Homo sapiens: one gene and its partners. The protein of the gene in region 1 interacts with the protein of each later gene in a biochemical or structural test. Each region holds a gene or a part of one and is shown on either strand. Other genes may lie near its edges.

Region 1 (7,427 bases):
AAGATGCCTCAGTCCTAACAAAGTCACGAGAAGGCCACAGGGCAGGTTGGCTTGAACTCTCAGAATCATCCAAAGCGTTCACACGTCTTAGGCTTCCAAAGTCTCAGCAGGACTTTGGAAGAGGAAAAGGCAGGCCAAAGGTATGGCCCCACAGAGGACAAACTCCTACCAAGGCAAGGGAAAGCAAGGCCTCTCTGCCAAGCTATCACCAGCCCAAAGATTAAAGAAGCAACCGCACATACAAAGATCCACAGGGCCCTCCCCAAGCTAACACAGCTTTAGCATTCAGCAAAGAATGTATTCAGGATCTTCAAAGTATAAAGCAGCATGGGGCAGCAGAAAGAGCACATTCAGGCAGAACCCCATGTCTATGACTCAAGCCTTTTCACCTCTCTCTTTTAAGGTTTCCTCTGCTTTAAAAATGTGATAATCTTAAGCCTAACAACCTTATCTACTTTCCATGGCTGGTTGCTTGCTTGCTTTCTGTCTTTTTTTGAGGACCTCAGAAAACCATGTGAAAGTGCTTTGTAAACTGTGAAACACTTTTCACAGCTGCCTGTTTTACAATTGATACCACTTTTTTTCTTCTGTTTCAATACATAAAGCACTTGTCTTCAATGCACCCAGGCAGATAAGGAGAAGGTAGGTTTGGCAGACCCCTCCCCAGAAAGAGAAGTAGCATACTCACCCACTCTACCCTAGCCACCCCCACGGAAGGAATACAGAAGAATTAACAACCAGAGCTGGAACCAAATCCCAGGTCTCTCTGACCATCACATCACACCACCTCCTCTGAAGTCAATTCTGGCTCCCGATCACACGCCCAGAGACTTCCCCAGACAGCACACCGCCTTCCCTCCCCCTTTATTGACTGGATCCACCCAGTTAAAAAAAATTTAAGTCCGCACTCCCACCATATGTGGCATTTATTTCCAGGGGAGGCCTGCCCTCGGTTCCCGTGGACAGATGTTGCTTTGTGCCTGCCTGACTCGCCTGGCAGCCCCTGTACAACTGCCCCAAGCAGGTGGCCAAGGATGGAGTCCACCCTGGCCCAGGAGCAGGGATGACAATCCCTTTGCGGCTGACAGTCCCTGGTGCTTTCTACTCATTCCTCGGCAGCCTGGGACCCCCAAAAGAGCCAGCCCCCAACACACACGCTCTCTCCCTTGGTTCAGCATCAAAGGAGGCTGAGAGGTAGAGACAGGAAGCCAAGGTACCCGCACCCCCAGTTCCCAGCCAGGCACATCTAAGCTAAGGAAGGCCCTGGGGGAGTGAAGTCACTGACCCCTTCTATCAGCCATCTGTGGGCTCCCGCCCGACCTAGCTAGCGCGCAACGGGAAGGATAAAGGAGATCCAGACAGATGGCAGCGCGCTTTGGGAAGGAAGGCTCTACAGGAATGCGAGGGCCGATGCGAGGCCCACTTTGGGGTGTGTTTTGTTATCTGCCCGGCTGCAGCCTGCCCCTCTCCCTCGTTCTGCACGGTTTCAAAATCTCTTGGACCAAAAGAAGGGCAAAAGAGTCGGGATGGGGGGGTGGGAGGTGGGAGAAGACCCTATTTTCCGCCACTTGTCTCTCCCATTTGGAAGTCAGAGCATTGCACTGCAACCAAAGTGCGTGCATGCTCAGGGGGCGGGAGACTGGCACAACCGAGTCTAAAAATACTCGATAAAAATGCTAATCCCGAAGGCAAAGAAAGAACGAAGAAGGAATCTGTCAATCACTAGGCTCCCGCTCCTCACCCACAGCCCCAGCTGTACGGACCGCATTCCTGTAGAGGAAAGTGGGGAGACCCGACTGAAGAAAAGAAACGCAAAGACACCACCACCTCCACGAGCGCGGGCCGCGGGGGCGGGAGGCGGCGGCGGAGGAGGGGCTCCGGCCCGCGGAGCCGAACAAAGCGGGCCTCAACTTCCAGCCCCAGCTCCCCGGAGTGGGGGCGGCCGAGTCCCGCAGCAACCCGCTCTCCCCTCCCGGAGGTGGAAAGGGAATGTGAGGTGTGGAAGCCAGAGTGCCGCGTGGAAGCCTCGGGCTCTGATCTTTGCAAATCAGAGATGGTTTTGTTTGGGGTCCCCCCACCCCCTTCCTGCCCGCGCTCTCCCACTCTCACACACACGCACCCACACAGTCTCACTCCCTCCCTCTCTCTCCCTCTTCCCATCTCCAGCCCCACTGGGTCGGCCCCGCAGTGCCAGGGGGCTGGGCCGGCGTGACCCCGGGTCCCCCCCGGGCGGGCCCCCACCTGGGGATGGTGATGCACTTGGTGTTGACGTTCTGCGTGGTGATGGCCTTCTCCAGCTCGTCCAGCTGCCCCGTCTTCTTGAGTTTCTTGACCAGGCTCTTGACCGCCTTCTCGCACCATTTCTCCTCCTGCCCGTTCTGCTCGCCCTTCTTCCAGCCCAGCAGGCGCTTCACGATCGGGGGAGTGAAAGGCAGGATGGACGACATGGCTGGGGAGGGCGCGCGGGCGGCGAGGAGCGCCCCCGGCGGGGCTGGGCTCGACGGGACGCCGGGGGCGCAGAGGGGAGCTCGGCCGGGGCCTGCCGCGGTCGCCCAAACTTCGCCTCAACTCTCGGCGAAGTTGCCGGGGCGCCGGGCCGGGCCGCGGCGCTGCAGCCTGCGGGGCTCGGCGCGCGGCCCTGCGCCCGGAGCGGCTCCCACGGCGAAGAGAAGAGCGGCCGGGCGGGCGGACGGCAGCAGTGCAGGGTCGGGAAGGCCCCGAACGCGGGGCGGAGGCGGCGGCCGCGAGACTCCAAGTGGCAGCAGAAGTTTGGGTTTCCGCACGGGGTAGCTGTTTGGGTGCCGCCTCCGGGAAGGAAAGTCCAACCCCCGGCCAAACTTCGCTCGCCTCGCTAGCTTTGATGCGCAGATCCCTCCGCCTCTGCGGCCTCACCGCCCCGCCACCCTCCTCCTCCCGGCTCGCCGCTCGCTCGCTCGCTGGCTGGGCCGGCCCGGGGCGTGCGCCGCGCTCCCGCTCCCGCCCGCTCCCAGTCTGTGTTTCATGCAAATCCGCGTGCAGCCTCCTTTCCAAGTGCTGTCACCGCCCCCTCGCCGCCGGGGCTCCCCGCCTCCTCCCCCGCGCCCCGCCACCTCCTCCCGCGGGCGCCCTGCCCGCCCCCTGCTCCGGGGAGGGCGCCCGGCCGGCCACCACCCCGCGCCCAGCACGCCCACGTGGGCGACCCGGGCGGCGGCAGTCCTGGCTGGAGCGCGCGGGACCCTGCGCGGCCCCGACCTGAAGTCGGGCGGGCGCGGGGAGGAAGTCCTGGGAAACACGGCGAGAGGGGCCTCGGGCGGGAGGGCTGAGCGCGGCCCGTGGCGTCCGCTCTCGGAGTCCACACTCGGGCGGCTCGGTTGGAGTTGCGGGCCGGAGAGGGTTGGACTCGCAGCAAGTAAGCGTCGTCCGGACGCGAGTGCACCCTGGAGAGGACCCGAGCCCGAGAGGGGGCGCGCGGAAGGCCCGGGCCCAGGAAGTTGGGGCCCGCACTTGGCCTCGCGCTTGCTGATCCCCGTCAAGGCCCTTGGCCGGCGCCGGCGCCCCTGGGCTGTTTTTATTCTCTAGTCGGTGAGATCACACCGGCCGAGAGCCTCGGGAACGTGTGCGGAGGAGGAGGGGGTGAGAAGTGGGTCCTCAGAAGTGGAGAGCTGGGGACACCAGTGACAACCTGGACAATGGCTGGAGCCAGGGGTCTCTTGAGCCTTGTGAACCGAGTGCCCGGCAGAAAATGAGCCTCAAGGACATCTGTTGAGTTCTTGAAGGAATGAATGGAGGGGCTTTCGAATTTATCTTTGAAAGAAATTTACATAACAGGGTGTTTGTTGCTGGATCTCCTGATAGAGAAGGATCGGAAATTTGATAATTGCCAATAAATGGAAGAGAGTTTTGTTTCCAAAGCAATGAACTCACAAAAAAGTGGGGCAAGACAGGAGTTTTCGGAGAGTTTGTGTATTCAAAAAAAGCAAAACAACAACAAACCAATTGGCACATTGGGGAGCTCCGCGGCTTTTCTCCCCACCAAAAGAATTCAGGGGCGTCTGCCCGCAGGGCCCTCGGCGGTTTTCAGGAGCTACTCCAGGCCCCTCGGCCTTTCTCTTGCTGCCTCCCGCAGCCGACTAGCCGGTGTCTAAGCCCTTTGTTTGTTTTTAACAGCAGGAATCTCCCACCCCCACCCCTGCTTTGTTAAAAAAAAAAAGTTATCTGGAACCCTCAAGTGGGTGGGGAGTTACAAAGCCCTGTGAGGTGTGGCGGAATCCACAGTCAGCCCAGAAGCGGCAGGGGCCCTTGCCTTGCTCCGGAGAACCGCCTCCCACAAGCCAATCCGCAGCTGCTGCTGCAGAAGTGCGCTGTGCTCCTCACCCTCCTCTCTTCCTAAATACCCGCCTGAAAAGGAGAATACGTGAAAGCCAACTGAGGCTTGACAACCTGGCTTCCGTTCCTTGCTGGTCCTCCTGTTAACGCGCTGCCGCTGTGGTCTTAGGTTTCACTCTCCTCTTCCCGTCCGTCAAGAGAGACAAGGATGACACAATCCACATTTATTGATTGCTTTCTTCATTCCGGGTAGTCCGCCTGCTGCCCTTTGATTCAGTCTTAACAGTGGTTGGTGAGGTAGATGTTCCTGTGCCTCACGTTTACGGAGGCACAGAGAGATTACATTACTTACTCAGGGTTCCAAGTGGCAGAGCTGGAATTTGAACCCAATACTTTGTTGAAGCCTCAGTCTCCGATCTTGAGACTGCACCCAGCTGCCTGGGTCACGGAAGGCAAAGATGACATCATTGATCGAGCTCTTTGCAAAACAGTTCTCTACACGGGCACACTGTTGTAACACTGCAAGGATTATTTGCTCACCTGTAAAATGGGGCTAGAGGTAGCTTCCCTCGCGATCTCCTAGGGTGGCTGTGGGAAGCTCATGTGAAAAGGTTTGCATTGCTAATGCCATGAAAAGTGGTGGAGGGAGGTCAAATAAGTTTAACACACATTGACGGAGCAGCTCTGAGTTGCAGCCCTCCTATTCAGTTCCTGAACTTCCAAAATAAAAGACTAAGGTTTTCAAGGCGTTCACAGCCTAGAGAAGCATCAAAGGGTGGGGATGAGGATGATGTGACTGAGTGGGCAAAGATGGGCAGGGGCCTTGCAGTCATCATCGTCCAGTAAAGTGTTAATCTTAACCTGAACAAGTCCAACCATTGAGAGGTAGCCAAAGAAAGTAAGAGGGGCTCAGGATCCATCAGTGACTGGCCTGGCTTCCAATCCCGGCTCTTTCTCTTCTTCCCCTTGGGCAGCGTCCGTTCTCTCCGCTGTAAGAATGGAGCAAGCGGTTCTCACTGTGCAGAGTGGTGGATCCAGAAAGAGCATTGTAACTGTCCTCCTGTAGTTCAAGTCCTTTATGTTACAGAGAGAGCAATGTCTGCTGAAGGAGAGTGATTTGCACTGTAGAGGAAGAGCGTCAGAGAGATTTGAGGATTACATGTAGTAGAAGGACCTGACAGGTACTTCACCCTGTAAAATCATGGTATGGGAAGGGGCCCTCATTCAGCCCTCTCATTTTCCTGAGGGGAGGAAATAACTAGGCAGCCAGCTAGTTAGTGTGGCAGAACCATGCTTCCCTGCTGGCATCCGTGTGACAAGAACAGCTGTGCATGCAGAAAAATAGTGCTGGACCCACCTACAAGTCTAATAAGTGCCATTTCTGGGCTAGTTCTTTCTCCTCAGGCCTGTTTCTCCAAGAGAAGTCCCTCCACTGGGGGACTAAGTCCAGTTTCAGAAAGCTCTGAGGAGGGCTGAGGAACTGATTCTTCCAGTGCTGAGAAGACCCTGCATGTTCTCTTGATCTTGACTTTGGGCAGTGAATGGGTGGGCTGCTCTGGATGGGTACAACTCTGTTCTGGCACCTGGTCTTTTGGGGCCCAGCCATACCTGCTTTTGCAGAGGTTGTCCTTGGGAGGGAAACATTAGCCCAGTTAATTTTTCACCATGGTAAGTGCAAAGTTCAGGAGAGGTGGGATGGAAGTGGAGACAGCAACTGTTTCCCTGGGAATAGTCCATCCTATGAACAGTTCACCTCGTGAATAGACACATCAGAGGGTTTTCGTGTATTTGGAGTGGCTCCCAGGTAGGCCAGCCACTCCAAATACACGAAAGAAACAAACACCTGACTTCAATTCTGATTATTTTCCCATTAGCTTAAGGGTATTTAATCAACAAGTAGTGAATCTAGAAAAAGCATTAAAATCATCTTCATCTTACACAGACAGAAAGTGATGTCTGTAAGGGAAGGTGATTTGCACTGTGAAGATAAGTAGCCAAATCAGGACTAGAACTTTTATCAGAGTGCCCTCACCTAAGAGAGAGCCTCTGTCTACAGTCAGATCTCTACCTATAGCTCTTTGTAACACCTTACACGTGTGAGCTCTTCTGTGGCACCAGAATGACCTGGGTTAAACTTCTACCTCTTCCACTTCCGGCTGTGTGACTCTGGGCACGTTCCTTAACTCTGTGTGTGTCAGTTTTCTCATCCATAAAATGTGATAATTACAACACCTTCTTAGGATTGCTGTATGGAATCAGATTAAATCATATAGAAAGCTTGGTACAAGCACATAGTAGGTTCTCAATATACATGGATGTGATTCATGCATACTATAAAGTGCTATGCAAAAGTGAGAAGCAATGAATTCCATGTACATAAAACAAATGTATAGATTTTAAACACAGTTCCAACAGAAAATAGTAAGACACAGAGGGAAAGGAATAGCATAATGCTACTATGTAAAACAAATTACATATACACAAAATAATTATATACATTTTGAAAGAAGTTATACAAATAAAAAGATATACATTGAACCACTTCACATCCATTAGGATGGCTATTATCTTTTTTTCTTTGTTTTTGAGATGGAGTTTCGCTCTTGTTGCCCAGGCTGGAGTGCAATGGTGCCATCTTGGCTCACTGCAACCTCCGCCTCCCGGGTTCAAGCAATTCTCCTGCCTCAACCGCCTGAGTAGCTGAGATTACAGGCATGTGCCACCCACGCCTGGCTAATTTTGTATTTTTAGTAGAGACGGGATTTATCCATGTTGGTCAGGCTGGTCTCAAACTCCTGATCTCAGCTGATTCCTCCCACCTTGGCATCCCAAAGTGCTGGGATTACAGGCGTGAGCCACCGCGCCTGGCCAGCTATTCGCTTTTAAAAAACAGAAAATAACATGTTGGAAAGGATGTGAAGAAATTAGAATCCTTGCACATTGCTGGTGAAGATGTGAAGTAGTGCTGCCTCTGAGGAAAATGCTGTGGTGTATGTATGGCAGTTCCTCAAAAAACTGAGCAGAATTACCATATGATCCGGTCATTCTGTTTCTGGGGATATACCCAAAAGAATTGAAAGCAGGGACTACGAGTATTTCCACACCCATGTCCGTAGCAGCCT
Region 2 (7,055 bases), on another chromosome or scaffold:
GCTTGGGGTACCCCTTGCTTTGCCAGTGTCTTCCTCTTTCTGGTCCTGGGGCGCCATCCAACTCATCTCCACACTGCTGGCTCCTTAAGGTGGGGGTCTCAACTCCAAGGCCAGCCTCCCAGGAGGCCCTCCCTGCCTACAGCCAGCCCCAGCCACTCCGCGCCTTTTGGGGATCTGAAAGATCTCGCTCCCGTACTAGCAGGTTTGTTGATTGACTGTTGTCTCTCACACCAGAATGGAACCACACGGGGTACAACCTGGTCTCCTTACCCTGATCCCAGTGTCTACAGTGGTAGGAGCTCATCGAACAAGGGGACAAACTCATGACTAGCTGACCAAGCCTGTCACCGTGGTAGGGGCCAGGGAGAAAGCTGGGAGGTCCCTGCCTTTGCCCGCATGCCAGGGCTTCTCTGGGCAGGCACCACGTCCATCCCACCCTACTCCGCGCTGTGGCTGTGCCTGCAGCCTTAACCCGCGGCCTGCCAGTATGGTGGCCCGCGTGGGCGACTGGCCTGGGCAGCTGCTGGGCGGGGCTGGAGGGTGGAAGGCCAGCAGGCGGGAGACACCCCCCACCCTCTTCCCTGCCAAGCTCAGGAAGAAAAGTGGACCCTGGTGGCTCCCTCTAGGCGTGGCTGCTCTGACCCTTGGTGGGGTGGGTGCCTTCCTCTGGAAGCTCTGACATATTGGGGGAAGGAAGTCTCAAGAGTCCACAAAGGTGGAGGTAGCTTCAGAGACCAACTGGAGGCCCTCACCTGTCCCCGCACCTTCACTCCATGGCACACCTATGGCTACTTCCCAGGGGTCCGCACTCTGGACAAAGTGTTGGTCCCTGGCTAGGACCCTGCAAAGCCAGAGGCACAGAAGGAAGCAGAGGCTCTGGGTGGGCACTGCCCATGCTAGGGGCCCTGCACAGAGCCCCTGGTCCACCAGAGGAGCCAGAGGAATTCTCTGCTTGATTGGAGACACTTCCCAGCAGGCCTGGCTGCAACCACCTTCTCTGAGTTACAATTTGACTGAGTTGTATGGAATTCAAATCCAGATGGAAGGAAGTGACAACGTCAAGTGCAACACTAGCTGTGTTTTGTCCAAAACGTGGGCCAACGAAACTATCTCCAGGAAAACAAATAAGTCCCTTTTCTATTTTTTTTTTTTTTTTTTTTGAGACAGAGTCTCACTCCATCGCCCAGGCTGGAGTGCAGTGGTGCAGTCTCAGCTCACTGCAATCTCCACCTGCCAGGTTCAAGCGATTCTCCTGCCTCAGCCTCCCGAGTAGCTGGGATTACAGGCATGTGCCACCATGCCCGGCTGATTTTTGTATATTTAGTAGAGAGGGGGTTTCACCATGTTGGCCAGGCTGGTCTCCAACTCCTGATCTCAAATAATCCACCCGCCTCAGCCTCTCAAAGTGGTGGGATTACAGGCGTGAGCCCCTGCGTCTGGACTGAATATCCTTTTTTTTTTTTTAGACGGAGTCTCGCTCTGTCGCCCAGGCTGGGGTGCAGTGGCGCAGTCTCGGCTCACTGCAAGCTCCGCCTCCCAGGTTCACGCCATTCTCCTGCCTCAGCCTCCTGAGTAGCTGGGACTACAGGCGCCCACCACCACGCCCAGCTAATTTTTTGCATTTTTAGTGGAGACGGGGTTTCACCGTTAGCCAGGATGGTCTCGATCTCCTGACCTCGTGATCCGCCTGCCTCGGCCTCCCAAAGTGCTGGGATTACAGGCATGAGCCACTGAGGCTGACCCTTTTTTTTTTTTTGAGACAGGGTCTGTCTCAAAAAAAGGGTGTGTCCCTATCACCCAGGATGGAGTGCAGAGGCTCAAGCACGGCTCCCCGCAGCCCCAACCTTCTGGGCTCAAGCAATCTTCCCACCTCAGCTTCTCAAGTAGCTGAGACCACAGGTGCAGGCCACCATGCCCGGCTAATTAAAAAAAAAAATTATTTTTTGTAGACAGGGTCTCACTATATCGCCCAGGCTAGTCTTGAACTCCTGGGCTCAAGCGATGCGCCTGCCTTATCTTCCCAAAGTGCTGGGATTACAGGCGTGAGCCACCTTGCCGGGTTAAATATCACTTTTAAGGAAATGATCTTCTTACCCAGCTTTCTGGTGTGTGAACACACAGAGAAAGCCTGGCCTCCAATTGTGGGGGCCAACGGAGTGAATGGGAAGAGTCGGGGGACAGTGTGGAGTGTGAGGACAAGGAGACAACCCCCAAGGCAGCGGAGAGAGGGAGTATGGAGCCGCCCTGGGGTCACCTACAGGTAGGTCCTGGCTGCCTCTCTAGACACCTGCCCTGCCGCAGGTCCGGCCAAGACCTGCACAGGGACTCCGGGCCGGCTCCCCCAGGATAGGAACTGCGCCCAGGAGTGCTGGTTTGAGGCAGGTTCCAGCCTCCACTGGGGAAGTGAGGGGCAGGAGGTCCCAGCTGAAGGTCACTCAGGTTGCAGCGGCGTGGCCCTCTCGCCTCCGCCCAGCACCCAGGCCAGCTTGGGCACCCCCGGCCCGTGGGGCATGTCCCTCCGCCTCAGGCGAGCACAGACCGAGCCCTGCCCCTCCCCAAACACACCATTGCGTCCCTGCGCCCGCAGGCCTCGCTGGAAGCTGCCTCCCCTGGAGACCACCCGGCCGACTGTCCAACTTCGGGGCCCCGGGCTTCCCGCTCCCCGCCCTGCCAAGGCTTGAGTCTCTCCCACTGCGTGGCCAGGCGTGGAGGGCCGGCCGATCCGACCCCGAAAGACGTCTCAGCGCTCCACGGCCCCGGGGCGGAGGTCAGGGGTCTCGCCGGCCCGAACGCCGGGCCCCGCGGGGCCGAAGTCCTGATAAGCCACCTGGCAGGAGTGGCTGGCAGACCGGCTGCGTCTGGGGCACCGGGCGCCGCCCCTCCCAGGCCCGAAGCCCCCGGCCCGCGCAGCAGGGACACTCCGCCAGGGGCCGGCGGGCGGGGCGGGGCCGGCGCGGCCGGGAGCCGCGGACACTCGGCCACCGAGCCACCGGCCACGGCGCAGCGGGGGCCGCCGGGCTGCGCCGCCAGGGTCACGCGACGCGGTGCCCGTCTCGGCGCAGGGTCCCTGGGCGTGGCCGCTGTCCCCCTCGTGTGTGGGACCCCAGGTCACCGTGTGGCGTCCCGGTAGTGTGTGGGACCCCAGAGGCGTCCGGGGCCTCCCCGCTGTGTGGTGTCCCACCCTGGGAGAACCCCGGGTGCGTGGCGTGGCCCCCCGGCCGCCCCCAGCTGGTTTGCGGTCGTGGCGGGGGCCTGTGGGTTTCTGGGCCCCGACGGCGGCGAGACGGGCGCCTTCCCAGCGGCGCAGGAAGCGGCCTCGGCCGGAAGGGGGGCCCCGGGCGCCACCGCCGCCTCCGCCTCCGCCCGCGCCCAGCGGCCCTCGGCGGGCGGGGCCGAGCGGGGCCGAGCGGAGTCGAGCATGGCCGAGCGTAGCCGAGTCCCGGCCGAGCGGAGCCGAGTCATGGCAGGGCGGGTCCGAGCGTGGCCGAGTCCCGGGCGAGCGGAGCCGAGCGCGGCCGAGTCCGGGCGGGGAGCGCGCGTTCCTGGAAGAGCCCGGCTGGGGAGCGGGTCACATTCTTGGCCAGCGCTAGGGCTGAGGCGGACGCACGGCAACAAACAGCGCGGGGGGCGGGGCCGGCGCGGGGCGGAGCGGGCGGCGCGGGGCGGGGCGGCGCGGCGGCGGCGTGAGCTCAGCGCCGGGCGCTCAGTCCGAGCCGGAGCGAGCCGCCGGGAGGATGTGCGCCGAGCGCCCCGAGCCCCGCGCCGCCGCCGCGCTCTGAGGGCCGCGGGCGAGAGGCGCCTCCGCCGCCCCGGAAGCCGGGCGGGCGGGCCGCGGAGCCGGCGGGCGGGCGGGCCGGGGGCCGGCGGCGGGCGCGACGCGGCCGGCCAGCGCCGCCGGGACGAGCCGGGCGGGCGCCTCGCGGTGGGAGGAGCGGGGCGGCGGCGGCGCGCCGCGCGAGGACGGCCCGGCGGGCCCCGCGCCCGCGCCCCCGCTCCTCCCGGGCCCCTCGGCCTCGGCCGCCGCGGCGATTCGCGCCTCGCGGCGCCGGCACCTGCCCGCGCGCCCCCCGCGAGCCCCGGGCCCGCGAGCGTTGGCGTTGGCGTTGGCGGCGCGCGCCGGGGCATGCCCCGCGCCTAGAGCCCGGGGGGCGCGCGGGGGACGCGCGGGGGGCCCGGGCGGCGGCGGGCGCGGCGCGGGGCGCGTGGATGTGGCGCCGGGCCCGGGCGGCGGCGGGCTCCAGCGGCGGGACCCCTTCGCCCCGCCCGCCTTCCCCTTCGCGCCCCCGGGCGAGGCCGCGGCCGTGATCGGCCGTGAGCCGGCGGCGGGGGGCGGCCGGGGTCGGGGCCGCGGGCGCCGCCGGGGCGCGCGGGGCGGCGGCGGGGGCCGGGGGGGCCCGGGCGCGCGGGAGCGGGAGCGGCCGGGGGAGCCGGAGCGCACCATGGAGGCGGCGGCAGGCGGCCGCGGCTGTTTCCAGCCGCACCCGGGGCTGCAGAAGACGCTGGAGCAGTTCCACCTGAGCTCCATGAGCTCGCTGGGCGGCCCGGCCGCTTTCTCGGCGCGCTGGGCGCAGGAGGCCTACAAGAAGGAGAGCGCCAAGGAGGCGGGCGCGGCCGCGGTGCCGGCGCCGGTGCCCGCAGCCACCGAGCCGCCGCCCGTGCTGCACCTGCCCGCCATCCAGCCGCCGCCGCCCGTGCTGCCCGGGCCCTTCTTCATGCCGTCCGACCGCTCCACCGAGCGCTGCGAGACCGTACTGGAAGGCGAGACCATCTCGTGCTTCGTGGTGGGAGGCGAGAAGCGCCTGTGTCTGCCGCAGATTCTCAACTCGGTGCTGCGCGACTTCTCGCTGCAGCAGATCAACGCGGTGTGCGACGAGCTCCACATCTACTGCTCGCGCTGCACGGCCGACCAGCTGGAGATCCTCAAAGTCATGGGCATCCTGCCCTTCTCGGCGCCCTCGTGCGGGCTCATCACCAAGACGGACGCCGAGCGCCTGTGCAACGCGCTGCTCTACGGCGGCGCCTACCCGCCGCCCTGCAAGAAGGAGCTGGCCGCCAGCCTGGCGCTGGGCCTGGAGCTCAGCGAGCGCAGCGTCCGCGTGTACCACGAGTGCTTCGGCAAGTGTAAGGGGCTGCTGGTGCCCGAGCTCTACAGCAGCCCGAGCGCCGCCTGCATCCAGTGCCTGGACTGCCGCCTCATGTACCCGCCGCACAAGTTCGTGGTGCACTCGCACAAGGCCCTGGAGAACCGGACCTGCCACTGGGGCTTCGACTCGGCCAACTGGCGGGCCTACATCCTGCTGAGCCAGGATTACACGGGCAAGGAGGAGCAGGCGCGCCTCGGCCGCTGCCTGGACGACGTGAAGGAGAAATTCGACTATGGCAACAAGTACAAGCGGCGGGTGCCCCGGGTGAGTGGCCCCAGGCCTGGGAGCTGGGGAGGATGCGCTTGGGGTGGGGGCCCCTTCTGGACTACAGGCTCTGGTCTCCGAAGGCTGGGACCTGTGCTTCTGCCGTGCCCCATGTCTCCAGTCTTCGCTTTGTTTTAGGGAAATTCAGAGTGTTCCGACTGGCAGGGCCAGAGAGTTTGGTAGGAAGGCCCTCCTGCCCGTTCCCCAGGACGAGCCTGGAGTGCGGGCTGTGGCGGTGGGGTGGGGGGCCAGGCCTGGTGTGTGGGGAAGGCCCGCAGGCCCACAGGCATTGCCCAGATAGGAAGGCACAGGCCTCATGCTCCCGAGAAAGCGGCCTGCCCCAGGTCAGGGAAGTTAGGTCCAGCTGGGCCACGGCCCGGATGCCTCAGGCCCAGGTCTTTCTTGGGGTTGGGGTGAAGGTGGCTGTCCTCGCCCCGAAGGCACCCAGCCTCGAAGACGGAGGGCTGCCTGCCTTTGGGCCCCAGGAGACAGAGCTTGGGTGAGGCGAGGCCTGGTTTTGTTACTGGCTCCCGCTCCCTGTTTGGTGCCTTGAAGTTTTGGGACACAGACACAAAATGAAGCCAGGTGTCCAGGCTTCAGTGGCAGGGGCCCGAGACTTGGCGGCTCCAGCACTGTGCTGGTTGGTCTCCCTGGGCCTGCCAGGGACCAAATCCCAGAGTCCGCCGTGTGGGGTGAGGGCCATTTGGCACCCGGCTGAGGGGCCTGGTCAGCAGGCTCCTGGGCCCGCGTGCTGGAGTTACTGGCGGCCTGCGATTTGCTTTGGACTCACCCATTTCCTTCTCTCCCTCTGAAACGCAGAGGGGTGCGCCGGAGAGGGAGGCTGCTGGCCTGGCTTTGTTGTTTGCCAGTTGGAGGATCTATGGGATCCGGCATGGGCAGCTCCCAGGCCACGAGGTGCCGAAATTACTCAGTGGGGTCCTCAGGAACTTTCCGTTGCGTACCTCCCCAAGTATTTGTAACTTTTCTTTTAAATATCCAGGCTTATTAAATTGCACACACAGAATGCTGCATTGGCTCAGCTATTCTTGGGAGGCCTAATTAATTCAGCTATTGCATCAAACTTTTTTTTTCTAAATCTGTGAATAGATGCTCCAGCCCGGTTTTCTCTGGGCGCCCCTCCAGCAGAGTGTCAGATCGTGGGGAGGAGGGGCTGTGGATGGAAGCGAGGGACTGTCGCCTCTGCTCGGAGGGGGCTGCGGAGGGTGCATGTGTGTGTGCATGTGTGTGTTTGTGTGTGCGCGCTTCTGACCCTGCCAGGCCAGGGCTCAGGTGGCAGCCGCCTGCAGACCTGTGGGCTGGGGAAGGATGCTCGTGGCAGAGCTGCAGACAGACGTAGCAGGCTGGGGCCCTTCGTGTCACACGGGGAGTTGGTTGGGGTGGGCCCGATGGCGCTCCCTGTGGGCTGGGGCCTTTCTTTTTGGGGTGGCCGCACCCTCGTCAGTGCCTGTGGCTGGAGGAAGCCACATGTCGGGGGGGATTGTGGGCTCGTGCAGGCTGCGTAGTGGGTCACCTGTGGCCAAGGCCTGAGCTGCTGGGACACGCTCACGTCACTGTCTTCAGAGCTGATGGCAGAGGATCTCGGTTGAGCAGGGTGTGTCTGCGTTTGTTTTTGTCCGACTGTGGGTC
Region 3 (7,707 bases), on another chromosome or scaffold:
GGTCCCTAATTTTACCACCTAGAAAACGCAGGCTGGTGAAAGAATGGGTTGGGCTGGTACTGAGGGCCTCTGCCCATCAAGAGGGGAGAGGAGGGCTGAGGAATTGGGAGGGGAATCAGATAGACAAGTCATACATACCTTGAGCGAAGGGGTAAGGGTTGGCTTTTGAGCTCGTAGAAGCTGTCAGGATCAAGGACGTTTTCTAATTCTATGTCAGCAACAATCCCGGATTCCGGAAGCAAAGAGTTCAGGCTGAGGGGGAGGTGGAGTGGTGGTCAGTGATTGAATGAAGGACCTTATTCCCCAGCCCTCCCCTGAGACAGAGAAAGAGAGAGAGAGGGGGGGAGAACGAAGAGGAGGGTACAAGCCCCTCATATTTGGCCACCTTGCTGGGTACCACACCACCATGAATTCCCACCTCCTTCCCCCATCCCCCTTTCCCTTCCCCACTGTGTTACTCATAGTCCCTTAGGAGTCAGAATAATAAGAACGCCTGCATCCCAACCCCCACACTGTAACAACCTGGGTTTGAGGAAAACAGAATTTAGGAATAACAATTCACTTTATAGAAGGATTCCTGACTTCCTATTCAGAGTTCTCCCAGCCCCCATACCCCCTACTTTTTTTTTTTTTTTGAGACAGAGTATCGCTCTGTCACCAGGCTGGAGTACAGTGGTGCGATCTCAGCTCACTGCAAGCTCTGCCTCCTGGGTTCAAGTGATTCTCACGCCTCAGCCTCCCGAGTAGCTGGGATTACAGGCACACGCCACCACGTCCGGCTAATTTTTGTATTTTTAGTAGAGACGGGGTTTCACCGTATTAGCCAGGATGGTCTCGATCTCCTGACCTCAAGATCCGCTTGCCTCGGCCTCCCAAAGTGCTGGGATTACAGGTGTGAGCCACTGCGCCCGGCCAACCCCCTGCTATTTTCTTTACAGCTGAATGTGAGCCCAGGTATATGTGTGTACACACACACACACACAGAGCAAGTAGGGGCATCCCTCAGCATAACAGTCCCTTGTAACACAAACTGAATGCATCACAAAGAGAACTGGAAATAATTCACTTGACGTAAAGATCTACCATTTCACAAATGAGTTTCTCCCAGCCCCAGCCAGAGTTCATGGGATGCCAACACATGCCTAAATATAAAATAGAAATATCAAAGGCTCCCCTCGCTCCAACAGACTGGATTTACAAGAGGGAGAATTTGGGTGGTTGATCCACTTTATACAAGCATTCTTTTCTTACCGGAGGAGCCTGCCCAGCCTTCTCCTGTTTTTTTGGATAGATCAAAACACACACACACCCCCAACACTAACACCCACTGGCGCACAAAATAAGAAGCCATATACACCCATCCCTTTAACTATGTCCACTACTGCGATGATCTAGGTTGTTACAGAGGAATTAGAAGATGGTGAATCGATATACAGAAAGGCTCTGCTCAGCCCCAGAGAGCAAGGGACAGTTAACACACACGTGGATGAATATGCATCCTTCAATTTAGCTAAACATTTAGAATGCTGAGAGATTGCTGGTGACTTCACTTGACAAGAATCCTCTCCCCTCCCCAAGGATCTGTCTTCCTTCCTCTCCTCACCCTCAGATGGAGCCCTAAAACCACCCAGGAAGTTGGGAAGAGGAAGCTCGGGCGAGCCACTGAGCTCAGCACAATCCCAGGCACAAAGGAGGCAAAGACCCCCCCCCACCCAGGGCTCACACACCCATTGCACAGAAGTTGGAAGAGATGGGCACTGGGGTGAGCAGGGAGGGCTGGGGCTCCAAAGCCCATTGATGAAAGTAAGGATGAGAAGAGGCCAGAGGGGATCCACCCAGGCAGGGATGGTGCAATCTGTACTCGTTCCAGCTCTATGGACAGATTCAAGATTACCCCCAGGAGCTCGGAGATCGAAAAGAAGATAAAAAGAAAAGGGGTGTGGGGCTAGGGAGTGGGAAGGGCTGAGAGGCTAGAGCGAGTAGCAGCATGAACAAGAGCCTCCTCTGGGTTCCCAAACAAGGTCTGAGGCCTCTGAGCTAAGAGGTAACATCATCGCCCTCTGCCTGGCTGTCTATCTTCCATTCAGGCCCTTAACAGGTGTGGGAAGAGGGCTTTTCCACTATCCTTGGGATCTGCCCCAGCTGGGTAGGCGGGCAGAGGGGAAAGGATTATTCTGGTCAAGTCTTGCTGAATGTTGCTTCTCTTGTTCATTCACACGCACTCACAAGGCTGGTCCCAGGCAGCATATCTGAGATACCTCCAAATCCCTCCAGATTCATGTTATCCCCAAACACAGCAACCAGTCACTGAGAGGCACCAAGCTCCCAAGACAGCACTTCTGTCCCTCAGGACCCCTTCTCCCACACTGAGGGAAAAAAGATTCTAGGATTCCCTTAAAACCAGTGCCTCACCTGACAGTGTCCCCTCAAATTCATTCCCCTCATGTCCGACTGAAAATCCCCGAATTCAGCCTCTAATCAGAGACCCTGTCTACCAAGTTCAGCTATCTCAGACCAGTTTCTGGATACTCCAGAATAGGCCCCTCTAGACGCAGTCAAGGGCTCCCCAAACCTGACCCAGACCCCGCTTAATGCACTCCCACGACTCCTTTAATAAAGCCACAATCCAAGCAGGCCACTGCCGGATTCCTTAGGTGCCCCCCCAAGACGGGCGCCCCGACGTCCTCCAAGGCTAGGCCGAGGGCCTCCAATCCCAGTCCGGGGCCCCCACTGCCCCCGAGATCAGGCCCCTGGGAGCCCCAGTCGGCACTCCCAGCCCCAGGCGGCCCCGCACCTGAGCAGCTGAGCCGAGTCGGCCGGCCTGCGCTCCTCCAACAGCACGAACACGGCTCGAGGGCCCTCCGCGCTGGCCTCTACGCCATCCCGAGCTGGTTCGGCCGCATGAGACATGACGCCCGGCCCCGGGCGAGCCCTGCCAGGCCGGTCGGGCCTCGGCCCGGTCCCCCTAACAAAATAAGAGTCCCCCCTCCCCCCAGCTCGCCACCGCCGCCTCCTCCGCTAAGCCATGGAGCTAGCACTGCGCGGGCGGGCGGCGTCGGGGAGATGGGATGGGCTGTGAGTCATCCCCCGCCCAGAACGGACCGACGCCCCCCCTCAACCTAACCCCGGACGACCGCCCTCCTCCCCCTCGTCTTCTTCCCCCTCCTCCCTCCTCCCAGGGATGGGGAAACTCCACAGGAAGTGACCGCACTGGGGATGGATGGCCCGTCTGGCCACGACCCATTAGCGAGGCGGCCAATCGCTGAACGGCGATTCGAGGGCCCACCCTAAGCGACGCCTCCGACGCGGAGGAAAAACGCGATTCGGCCCGCCCTCATTCCGAGAAGCAGCACCCAGACCACGCCCTCAGGGGCAGCGACAAATAGGCGAGGGTTGATTTGGTTGAACCACGCCTCTATGTTTGCGTCGCTTTCGGAGCCACGCCCTCTCTTCTCAAATTATCCCTCTGCAAGGTAATATTAAGCCGCTCCTTGGGTCCTCTGCGCCTGCGCATCGATGGCCAGTCGGCGCACGGAGGGTCTCCTGGCCAAGCTTTTAGCTGCGGAACCGCGCCCTCTTTCGGCCAATATTTGTAATATCTGAGCCCTAGACCGCGCTCCAACCTCGATCTGGCTGTGCTCTCTCAGCCAAAGCCATAACTATGAGGCAGAGGCAGCTACATTCCCTGAAGGTGCGGGCCAGAAACCCCCCCCTTTCGCTGTCCGCAGTCCAGCCGCCCAGCTGGTCTTCCGGGAGTATTCCGCCTGTTCCATGCCATCGAGAGCGGTTGTACTATGTTCATTGCGCTGCGCAATATGTGCTTAATAAATTCTTGACGGGTGAATGAATCTGGTCCCTTCGGTGAATGACGACTTCTGGAATCACAAAGATCCAGGTTTGAATAGGGAAGGGGACCTCCCCTCTCCCAGCCTCAGCTTTCCTGGCCTGTTAAATGGGGGTCAAAATACCTGTCTGGCAGGGTTGTTCTGAGGATTAAAGATAATGTATGAAAAGTGCTAGCAGGTTGTTTGGCATACAAGAAGCTTCCCAAAATTAGTTGATTCACTCATTTGTTCACTTATTCAACATTCACTGAGCGCTTCTGTATGCCAGACGCATGCAAGCCGGCTCGCACAAGGCGGAGGGTCTCACTCATATATCCTCAGGTGCAAATAGCTCACAAAACACCCAGACCTACAGCCTTCCCTTCCTCTTTCCTGACATCCCAAGACCCCACCCTGAGTTGCGCCTCCAGGAATTTCACCGGGCTTTCATTTACCTTGGACCTTCCTGTATTGGCATCATTATTTCACAGGTCTGTCAGTTGCTTTCGTAAACTCATCCATACTCACACACAACCATCTCGTACAAGGGGGAAACCTCTACATAATAAAGATGACTTCTGGCCGGGCGCGGTGGCTCATGCCTGTAATCCCAGCACTTTGGGAGGCCGAGGCGGGTGGATCACCTGAGGTCAGGAGTTTGAGACCAGCCTGGCCAACACGGTGAAACCCCGTCTCTACTAAAAATACAAAAAATTAGCCGGGCGTGGTGGCGGGCGCCTGTAATCCCAACTACTCGGGAGGCTGAGGCAGGAGAATCCCTTGAACCGGGAAGCAGAGGTTGCAGTGAACCAAGATAGTGTCACTGCACTGCAGCCTGGGTGACAGAGTGAGACTCAGTCTCAAAAAAAAAAAAAAAAGAAAAAAGAATACATTACCAATTGTACCAATCAAAACTCTAAAACGGAACTTGTAGATCCAATGTTAAAATTCCTATGATGCCTTAAACATGTAAGAATGGGCCGGGCACGGTGGCTCACACCTGTAATCCAGCAGTTTGGGAGGCCAAGGTTGGTGGGTCGCTTGAGGCCAGAAGTTCGATACCAGCCTGGCCAACATGGCAAAACCTCGTCTCTACAAAAATACAAAAATTAGCCGGGCGTGGTGGTCTGCGCCTGGCCTGTAGTCCCAGCTACTCGGGAGGCTGAGGCAGGAGAATAGCTTGAACCCGACAGGCGGAGGTTGCAGTGAGCCGAGATCACGCCACTGCACTCCAGCCTGGGGCGACAGAGTGAGACTCTGTCTCAAAAACAAAAACAATGGCCCAGTGCGGTGGCTCACGCCTGTAATCCCAGCACTTTGAGAGGCCGAGGCAGGTGGATCACTTGAGGTCAGAAGTTCAAGACCAGCCTGGCCAACGTGGCAAAACCCTGTCTCTACTAAAAATACAAAAAAATTAGCCAGGCATGGTGGCGTGCGCCTGTAATCCCAGCTACTAGGGAGGCTGAGGCACAAGAATCGCTTGAACCCGGGAGGTGGAGGTTGCAGTGAGCCAAGATCGTGCCACTGCACTCCAGCTTGGGAGACAGAGCTAGACTCCGTCTCAAAAAAAACAAAAACAAACATGTAAGAATGGCTAATTTTACAAAAGAAGAAAGAGGAGGGTCTGGCGGGGTGGTTCCCACCTGTAATCCCAACACTTTGGGAGGCCAAGGTGGGAGAATTGCTTGAGCCCGGGAGTTTGAGACTAGTCTGGGAAACATAGGGAGACCCCGTCTGTACAAAAAAACTTTTAAAAAATTAGGCCGGGCATGGTGGCTCACGCCTGTAATCCCAGCACTTTGGGAGGCTGAGGCGGGAGGATCACAAAGTCAAGGGATTGAGGCCATCCTGGCCAACATGGTGAAACCCCGTCTCTACTAAAAATACAAAAATTAGCTGGGCATGGTGGCACGCGCCTGGCCTGTAGTCCCAGCTACTTGGGAGGCCGAGGCAGGAGAATCTCTTGAACCCAGGAGGCGGAGGTTGCAGTGAGCCGAGATTGCACCACTGCACTCCAGCCTGGGGACAAAGTGAGACTCTGTCTCAGAAAAAAAGAAAAAAAAAGAAAAGAAAAGAAAAGAAAAATTAGCCAGGTATGGTGGTGCACACCTGTGGTCCCAACTACTTGGGAGGCTGAGGCAGGAGGATCGCTTGAGCCTGGAAAGTTTGAAGTTGCAGTGAGCCGTGTTTGTACCACTACCCTCCAGCCTGGACGACAGAATGAGACTCTGTATCAATTAATCAATAAATAAAACTACATACTGTCTGATGAAAGATGCTACAAAGTTAAAAGACTTACAACAGACTGGCAACAAATATTTATAGCAGTAGAGCCACAGAGTAATTATCTTGTCACACATCCCAATCCTACAAACACCAGCTTCACACACGCATCTCAAATGTCTCCATGACAAGTGATATCCCATGACACCCTGCATGATATGCCTACCCTGCATCTTTCTGGGTTTCTCTCTCTCTTTTCTTTTTCTTTTTTTTTTGAGACAGAGTCTCGCTCTTGCCCAGGCTGGAGTGCAGTGGCACGATCTCGGCTCACTGCAAGCTCCGCCTCCCGGGTTCACGCCATTCTCCTGCCTCAGCCTCCCCAGTAGCTGGGACTACAGGCACCCGCTACTATGCCCGGCTAATTTTTTTGTATGTTTAGTAGAGACGGGGTTTCACCATGTTAGCCAGGATGGTCTCGATCTCCTGACCTCGTGATCCGCCTGCCTCGGCCTCCCAAAGTGCTGGGATTACAGGCGTGAGCCACTGCACCCGGACTTCTTTTTTCTTTTTCTCTCTCTCTTTTTTTTTTTTTTTTGAGATGGAATCTCGCTCTGTCACCCAGGCTGAGGTGCAGTGGCACTATCTCGGCTCACTGCAGCCTCTGCCTCCTGGGTTCAGGCGATTCTCCTGCCTCAGCCTCCCAAGTAACTGGGATTACAGGTGCCCGCCACCGCGGCCAGCTAATTTTTTTTGTATTTTTAGTAGAGACAGGGTTTCCCCATGTTGGCCAGGCTGGTTTCAAACTCCTGACCTCAAGTGATCCGCCCGCCTCGGCCTCCCATAGCGCTGGGATTAAAGGCATGAGCCACATGCCCGGCCCTAGTTTCTATCAATATCTCATTCTCAACTTTCTCAATACTTGCACCCCTGCCATATAGTTGGAGTTCCTTTCTTTCTTTCTTTCTTTTTTTTTGGAGACAGGGTTTCGCTCTGTCATCCAGGCTGGAGTGCAGTGGTGCGATCTCGGCTCACTGCAACCTTATCTGGGGTTTCACTGCAAGACAACTTCAAGGTGCTGTGAAGGGGACATGTGGAGCGAAGTGGGAGGGCAGCTGGATGGTGAAGTTGGGGGTATTTAGGGATAGATATGAGTGGTGATTGAAGGTGGCTTGGGGGTGAGTTTGGGTTCTACAACAGGACAGTTTGCAGGCAATTGAAGGATCATTTGAAGGTCTTTGGGAGGAATGGGGCTTCAATAAGACAGTTTAAGAATGCAGGTGGGAGCTATTGGGAGGGTGGATTGGGAATACGGTTAATGGGTGGAGGATGGTTTGGGGTACAGTTGGAGGGAATATAGGAAGATGGGTTTTTAGAGATAGAGTTCGGCCTTCTGTAAGGTGGTTTAAGGAACAGATGTTAACTGTCATAAGATGTTGTGGTAGGCTGAATAATCCCCTCCACCCCTGCCAATATATTTATGTCCTATGTCCTAATCCCTGGAATTTTTTTTTAATTAATTAATTTTTTTTAGACAAAGTCTCACTCTGTCACCCAGGCTGGAGTGCAGTGGTGTGATCTTGGTTCACTGCAACCTCCGGCTCCTGGGTTCAAGCCATTCTCCTCCCTCAGACTCTCGAGTAGCTGGGACTACAGGCAGGCA
Region 4 (7,097 bases), on another chromosome or scaffold:
TGAAAAAGTCATTTTTCTCTCTACATGTACAAATTATTTTAATACTTGAAGTTTTACGCTCAGACTTACAGAATAGAAAATTTTCTGGAGCACAAAAGTTGACTTGAGGGGAAGAAAGGCAGTTTTTTTTTTTTTTTAAACATTTTTTAAAAGAATGAACATCTTTGCACCCAGAGAAAAAAAACTGGTATTTTAATATATATTTATATATATTTATATATATATAGAATGTAATTTTAAAGTAACATTAACCCCTTTTGTCCTCTGGTTTAGAAATGTTTTAACTCTTCCATAAAGTGAGGAAAATAGGGAAAAATGTCAACCATCTGCACCAGTAAATAATAACTATTAATATTACATATGTTCATTAATTTAAAAAAAATAATAAAACCTATTGGAGGTGCAAGGCAGGAGCATATTGTTTGGCTTCACAGGCCTCAGCCTCCTCCCAGTGCACACTTGAACCACACACACAAAGGGGAAGAAAGGCTGGTGGTAACCAGCCATAACAAAAATATATTCTTTGTATTCTATCATCCCTCAGGTTCATCTTGCATGTTTGCTTTAAACCACAAACGGCTACTGCACAGTTCTTATGTGTTCCAAGGAAAATTGTCTTTTAGGCTACGAAAGATTCAAAAAAATTGTTTTCAGTACAAAAAGTCTTGTTAAGAGAAAATAATTTTTTTGCTCCCAAAATACTACAAGGTGTCTCTAGTGTATGTCTAGTGTACTCTGTGAGAGGTTTGAATTCAAGTCTGAGTTATCGGTGCTGAGTCCCAGGTCCGTGGCGCTTGCACCATGGAGGTTTGCCATGCCTGGATTGCTAGCAAGCTGAGAAAGCATTGAATTCTGGTCCGGGCTGGCAAAATGCCCTTGTTCCATGGGGTTGGCCTGGGCAGCTACCAGTCCAGGATGTGGGGAACTTGTCTGTGGGGAAACGTGGTGTGGAGAAGGCTGAGGCTGCATCCTTGGGGAAGGACTGGAGTGGGGGGGCTGGGACTGTGGCCGTGGAGAAGGGACAGGCTGGGGAGAGCGCACTTGATTGGAGAGAGAATTAGGGATCTGCTGGCCTTGTAGGTGTGGGGACTGGGCCTGATTTGGGAGCATATGCTGCTGGGGGCTCATGGGGTTGGGCTGAACAGGGGACCCCATCTGTTGCTGAAGGAGTCGCTGCTGATAGGCCTGTAGACTGGCACCTGCCTCTGCTCCCAAGGCCTGGGGAAGCTGGCCTATCTGTCCCATATTTCCTTGTTGCATCTGTTGCATGTGATGCTGCATCCGCTGCTGCTGCTGTGGTGGGTAGCCAACTCCTTGGGGTTGCTGGAACTGGTTATGGTTGGCCATTCCAGGGCCTATTCCTGGCCCTGCTCCCTGTTGCTGCTGCTGTTGCATCATTTGCTGTCGTCTCAAGATGTCTCGGAATTGTGAAGGCATGGTGTTGTGGTTCATGTTCATCTGCTGAGCCTGGGGGCTCATCCCTCCCATGGGTGGCTGGAGTTGCTGCTGTGGTTGCTGCTGGGGCAGGCCAGCCCTCTGAACGCCCGCCTGCATTGGATTCATGTTCTGCATGGCTGGATTGGAGTGGACCCCCTGCTGACCTGGCATGGTAGGTGGCTGTAGCCCTGGCTGCCCCTGGGGCATGCCAGGCTGCCCAGGGATGGGTTGTGGATTAGAGTTGGCATACTTGGCAGCCCGCTGCTTGATGAATGCAGCCAACAGCTGGGGGTTGGCGTGAAGGATACTAAGCACCTGTTGCTGCTGCAGGGGAGAGCTGGGAGACCTGAGAGTCCGCAAAAGGTTTTGTAAGGCTTGTTGAGACACAGTGCCTGGTTTGAGTGGGCTGATACCTACCTGGCCCAATCCTGGTTGTGGAGCCATGTTCAAAGGTTGACCATGCTGGGCCACTGACATCATGGCTGGCCTTGGCATCCCAGACTGTAGTTGCTGGGGCTGAGGCAATCCTCCTTGGCTCCAGGGTGGCTGTTGCTGCATCCCTGTCGGTCCCATCCCTGGCTCCAAATGCCCACTGGGACCTCTGGTCATGGGAGGTGGGTTCATACCCATGGGGGCCATGGGAGTCATCGGGGGCATCTGGTGTTGGATTGGCCTTTGAAAAATTTGCACGTGGGCCATCTGGCGCTGCGTCTCCGCTGCTCTCTGAATCTGCATTGCCATTTCCACTGCTGCAGGTGGGGGCCCTGGAAGGGGTGGCTGAGCAGTCTGAGGAGGGGTTGGAGGGGTCACCTGGCCTGCTGCCTTACCCTGGGACACAGGGCCAGCAGCTTGAGTCCTGGGCAAGTAGGGTGGCATGCTATTGGGAGGGGTAGGCTGAGGCTGAGAAGTGGGCTGGGGCGTCTGCGGGGTGGTTGGCTGTTGGCCAGTTGGTGTCGTTGGAGTGGCAGGAGTGGGGGAAGGGAGGCCCTGTTGCTGCCCAACCACACCAGTCCGCTGCATGCTGGCCATCCTCCTGCGAAGCATTTGGGCCTGCTGTAGTCGGTGCTGCAGCTGTTGCTGCCGGAGCTTCTGCTTGATGTTTAGGCAGAACGGCACCGGGCATTTGTTCTCCTGGCAGTGCTTGGCATGGTAGCAGCAGAGGGCAATGAGCTGCTTGCAGATGGGGCACCCGCCATTGGTTTTCCGTTTGCAACCCTTGGTATGCTGCACAACCCGCTTCATCTTCTGGCAGGATGGCAGTGAGCAATTGGCATTCCGACACTGGCAAGCATGGACCAGAGACTGGATGCAGCGCTGGATACTCAGGCGGCGAGAATCGCCTGGGCTCTGGGTGGCTGCAGCCTGCTGGTTGTTGCTCTCATCATCTAAGCCAAGGCCTAGTTTCTCCATTTTGTGGTCATGGTTTTTAGTGTTATAGCAGGTGATACACAAGTCATAATCCTAGGGAAAAAACAGGAGGTGCACGTAAACTCTCCAAGATTTAAGTCATTCAAAAGTATTTTAGATATTGTTTGGGCTAGAAAAGCCCCTTTCGTAGAACAAAAACTAGCCTCTTCAGCTCTGCCCCTCAAACACGAGGCCAAGCCCCTAGCATCCCACAGGCCTCTATAAAATACGTGGCTGCATGGCCCCTCAGAACAACCCTGCGGAGCTCACCTCCTCCTTCCCACAACCCGGTGCCTACCTCACAGACAGTACAGTGCCAGCGTGTCTCCACATGGTGCTTGCATTCATTGCAGGTGTAGACAAAGCGGTCCTGGCTCTGCGTGTGCAGCTCCACCAGCATGCACATGGTGGACCACTGGGCTCTTCGGAGTGAAGAGAACTCCAGGTGCTTGTCCCTTGCCAGCGTGAGAAACGCATCCCGACCATCCATCAGATCGCAGGGGATGAGAGGATCAGGATCAACAATGGGAGGCAGGGAGTTGGCAGCAGGGCCAGCAATGAGGCGGATCACAAAGAAGACCTGAAAAACAGACAGTCTCTTTTTTTTGAGACAGGGCCTCGCTCTGTCATCCAGGCTGGAATGCAGTGGCGTGATCTTGGCTCACTACAACCTCTGCCTCCTGGGCTCAAGCAATTATCCCACCATGGCCTCCTGAATAGCTGAGACCACAGGCCCACACCACCACACCTGGCTAATTTCTGCATTTTTTGTAGAGACGAGGCTTCGCCATGTTGCCCAGGCTGGTCTCAAACTCCTAAGCTCAAGTGATCTGCCTGCCTCAGCCTCCCAGAGTGCTGGGATTACAGGTGTGAGCAGGTACAGCAGGCTGAGCACCAATGAGACTGGCGAATGCTGAGTTAGTTTCACCACCATACGCCTCCTGTTCCTTTTCCTGCTTTACCTCTTTGGTCTCTTGAGACTGACTATAAATAGAACTGAAATGCACATCCTGTGATTTTTTTCTCCTTCATTCAGTAACTCCTTCAGAGTAACAATGGTCTGGGTGAGGTATAGCACCATGCACAGTGGACATTTTGCCTCAAGGCAGTCTACTTTAAGATGCAATCCATGGTTTAACCTCAATCTAATTACAACAAACCAGACAAATCCAAATATGGAGACAGTATGAAAAACAACTGGCCTGGACTCATGAAGGTCCCCTATGCAACTTTCCTGTGTAACTTTTCCTACAGGTTTGGAAGGGAATGGAATGGATAAAAAATCTTAGTCTTTGTTGACAAAGCAATAAAATTCTTGTTCATTGAAGTTTGAAAAAACTTGTAACAACCATCAATTCTCATAACCATTAGTGTAAAAGGTATAAAAAGCTGGTATTACATATGTATTTGACATTAATTAGTATATAACTATAAACACCTATTAAAGTAATAAAATGTAAAACATCCCCTTAAGAAATTAGGAACTTGTGAGAAACTGCTGTACTGATAACAGATTATTCAACATCTGTGCACACTGGCAGCCACACTCACAGTCTCTGGCCAGCAATGTTCGCTGCTTCTGTCACCCTACAACCAGGCCAATACTTGGATTTACAACCTAAATTTAAACAGCCATGGAATGTGTCCACAATTTAAGTCAAACCTATTACAATATATTCTAAGGGCTTTTCCCAACTGCCTAGGATTCTGTGGCATTACTTACTGCTTGAAATAGCTAGTAACTATTAATTGTTAATAATCATTACCTAACGTATTAGAACTCAGGAATCCTTCCATTTCACTAGCATGGCTGAGATAATGGTTATTACCATTATTACATCGTAGCCCATTATTCTAGGCTAACAAAAAAGGGGTGGTGATGGGGGGAGCAGTGGGGGAAAAGATACTTTGAACACCTATGTATATAGGTGTTCACCATGATAACATCATTATAACAAATTCCTCTCTAAAAAAGATTTTGTTAACTATTTCTCTCCCAAAGAGACTGTTTAACCAATTTTTAGGTACGGAATTACAACCTGAAATCAAGCCTTCATTTCCCTCTCAACTTAATTACCACTTCCTATAAGAACTTGATTATATGTCTGAGAACCGAGATAGTAAAATGAGGAGTCTGACTGAACAATCGAGATTACTACCATTGGACAAACCCTGAGAGGAATTACTCTTCAATTCTCCTGGCTTTCGTTATCAATTATATGATATTAAAGAGAGAAAAAAAAAACCTTACCCAGTTATTTTCCCAAATGACTGCAAGAACAACTAAACAATGTAAATGATGAAATAACTCAAAAAGTTTTGAGAAGGGGGTTGTAAGTCCATATGTGGAAGTTTAACTTTTCTCCAATTCTATTTACTAATTCACTTTCAGAAAGGTTAAATCTTTTTATTTTTTGAAACAGAGTCTCGTTCTGTCACCCAGGCTGTAAGTGCACTGCAACCTCTGCCTCCCAGGTTCAAGTGATCCTCCCACCCCAGCATCCCAAGGATTACAGGTGTGTGCCACCACGCCAGGCTAATTTTTGTATTTTTAGTAGAGACGGGGTTTCGGTTCGCCATGTTGGCCAGGCTGGTCTCCAACTCCTGACCTCAAGTGATCCGCCTGCCTCAACCTCCAAAGTGCTGGGATTACAGGCATGAGCCACCACGCCCAGCGAACAGTCAGTGTTTTTATTCATTTCTTATTTCTTTTTCTGAGGTGGAGTTTCGCTCTTGTTGCCCAGGCTGGAGTGCAATGGAGTGACCTCGGCTCACTGCAATCTCCGCTTCTCAGGTTCAAGCAATTCTCCTGCCTCAGCCTCCTGAGTAGCTGGGATTACAGGCATGTGCCACCATGCCCAGCTAATTTTGTATTTTTAGTAGAGCAAGGTTTCACCGTGTTGGTCAGGCTGGTCTTGAACTCCTGACCTCAGGTGATCCACCCGCCTTGGCCTCCCAAAGTGCTGGGATTACAGGTGTGAGCCACCATGCCTGGCCAGAAATCTTGCCGTTTTTCCCCAACTCTGGGTGGCTGCATCTTACCTCTTTATGCTTCTCCATGGTGGCATATAGTTTCTGTGAGAGGTCGTTAGATACATTGGGCATCCCGGGTTTCTTCTTGTTGCCCCTACTCAGGCTGCTCTTATTTTTGCTGGTTTTCTTATTATTCTTCTTTTTAGCATTTTTGCTGTCTCCCTTGGTCACCTGCAGAGTAGCACAAAGGAGACAAGAAAATAAGGTTTTTGTTAAGTAATTTGGGAATAGCACAGAATATCTCCCTTCTTTGAAACTAGATATCATAATCTTATGCCTGTAACTTATTTTACTAGCTGTTCTCTTCACTTATTCTTTCTCCTTAAAGTTGTTATTTGACCTAATTTTCTCCCAGTGATCTTTAAGGCAATGGCAGCCCTTTAGCTTTTTGCCTAGAAGAGGCCACAGAATGTGCAGACCCTGTAGATTGATTGAATGTATCCCAGATTGGGGCTAGGGAACAAGGAAGGGGTGGCACTTTGGGGTAGTGAAGAGTGTATCAAAGTGGGGAGCCAGAAGACCTTGGTTTTATTTCCTTCCACTCATATTCTAAAATGTTATGAGCCTACAAATACTAAATGACAAGGCTGTAAGAGTTTGTTAACAGACTATTTAAGGGTGCCTTTTGTTAAGTTAAATTCAATGGAGGTAATTCGAGATATGCTATGGGGAAATAACTGGTGAGGTTACTAAGCCAGGCTTAGTAACTTAAATTCTGGCTCAGGCCTATTTTGTATAGCTAAGAATGGTTTTTTACATTTAAAAAGAGTGTGTTTTTAAAAGACAGAAAATATGCCAGAGATATGTGACCCACAAGGCCTATAATATTCATAACCTAGTCCTTCAGATAAGTAATCTTCTATCAGTTTTTCAGGATTTCCTTCAGTTTCTTTTATCATTTCACATTACTCAAAGTCTGAGATGCCATTTTAAAAGGGGCTCTGATGCTTTAAAAGTTTAATACCACTGAAACAGAACCCTAATAACCTCTCTAAGCCAATATTTCTTGTCCAACTTAAAGAGCTCTTTTACACCTGAAAGCTTTAAAACCCAATTGAAAGTTTAAGTGCACTTCTGGATTAAATATTAGAATCATGATAGAAGTTTCAAAGGAAACTCAATGCCCTTACATCTGTGCTTTCATTGCTGGTGTTTTCCTCTCGTTTTCTCTCTTCTTCCTCCTGTTCCAGTTCCTTAATGCTTTCTTCCAGAACATTGGG

Evidence for each region.
Region 2: the proteins of SMAD3 (region 1) and SKI form a complex in vitro, tested with the Homo sapiens proteins (8 studies listed by BioGRID and IntAct).
Region 3: the proteins of SMAD3 (region 1) and TFE3 form a complex in vitro, tested with the Homo sapiens proteins (2 studies listed by BioGRID).
Region 4: the proteins of SMAD3 (region 1) and EP300 form a complex in vitro, tested with the Homo sapiens proteins (5 studies listed by BioGRID).

The regions. Positions count from the first base shown.
Region 1 is NC_000015.10:67,061,175-67,068,601, reverse strand, and holds the start of SMAD3 (mothers against decapentaplegic homolog 3), read right to left. Parts: upstream 3,001-7,427; 5' UTR 2,448-3,000; coding exon 2,242-2,447; intron 1-2,241. UniProt on the Homo sapiens protein: Receptor-regulated SMAD (R-SMAD) that is an intracellular signal transducer and transcriptional modulator activated by TGF-beta (transforming growth factor) and activin type 1 receptor kinases.
Region 2 is NC_000001.11:2,224,328-2,231,382, forward strand, and holds the start of SKI (ski oncogene), read left to right. Parts: upstream 1-3,991; 5' UTR 3,992-4,439; coding exon 4,440-5,408; intron 5,409-7,055. UniProt on the Homo sapiens protein: May play a role in terminal differentiation of skeletal muscle cells but not in the determination of cells to the myogenic lineage. Functions as a repressor of TGF-beta signaling.
Region 3 is NC_000023.11:49,040,317-49,048,023, forward strand, and holds the start of TFE3 (transcription factor E3), read right to left. Parts: upstream 3,042-7,707; 5' UTR 2,911-3,041; coding exon 2,795-2,910; intron 253-2,794; coding exon 139-252; intron 1-138. UniProt on the Homo sapiens protein: Transcription factor that acts as a master regulator of lysosomal biogenesis and immune response.
Region 4 is NC_000022.11:41,172,574-41,179,670, reverse strand, and holds part of EP300 (histone acetyltransferase p300), read right to left. Parts: coding exon 7,008-7,097; intron 6,049-7,007; coding exon 5,887-6,048; intron 3,425-5,886; coding exon 3,143-3,424; intron 2,899-3,142; coding exon 715-2,898; 3' UTR 1-714. UniProt on the Homo sapiens protein: Functions as a histone acetyltransferase and regulates transcription via chromatin remodeling. Acetylates all four core histones in nucleosomes. Histone acetylation gives an epigenetic tag for transcriptional activation.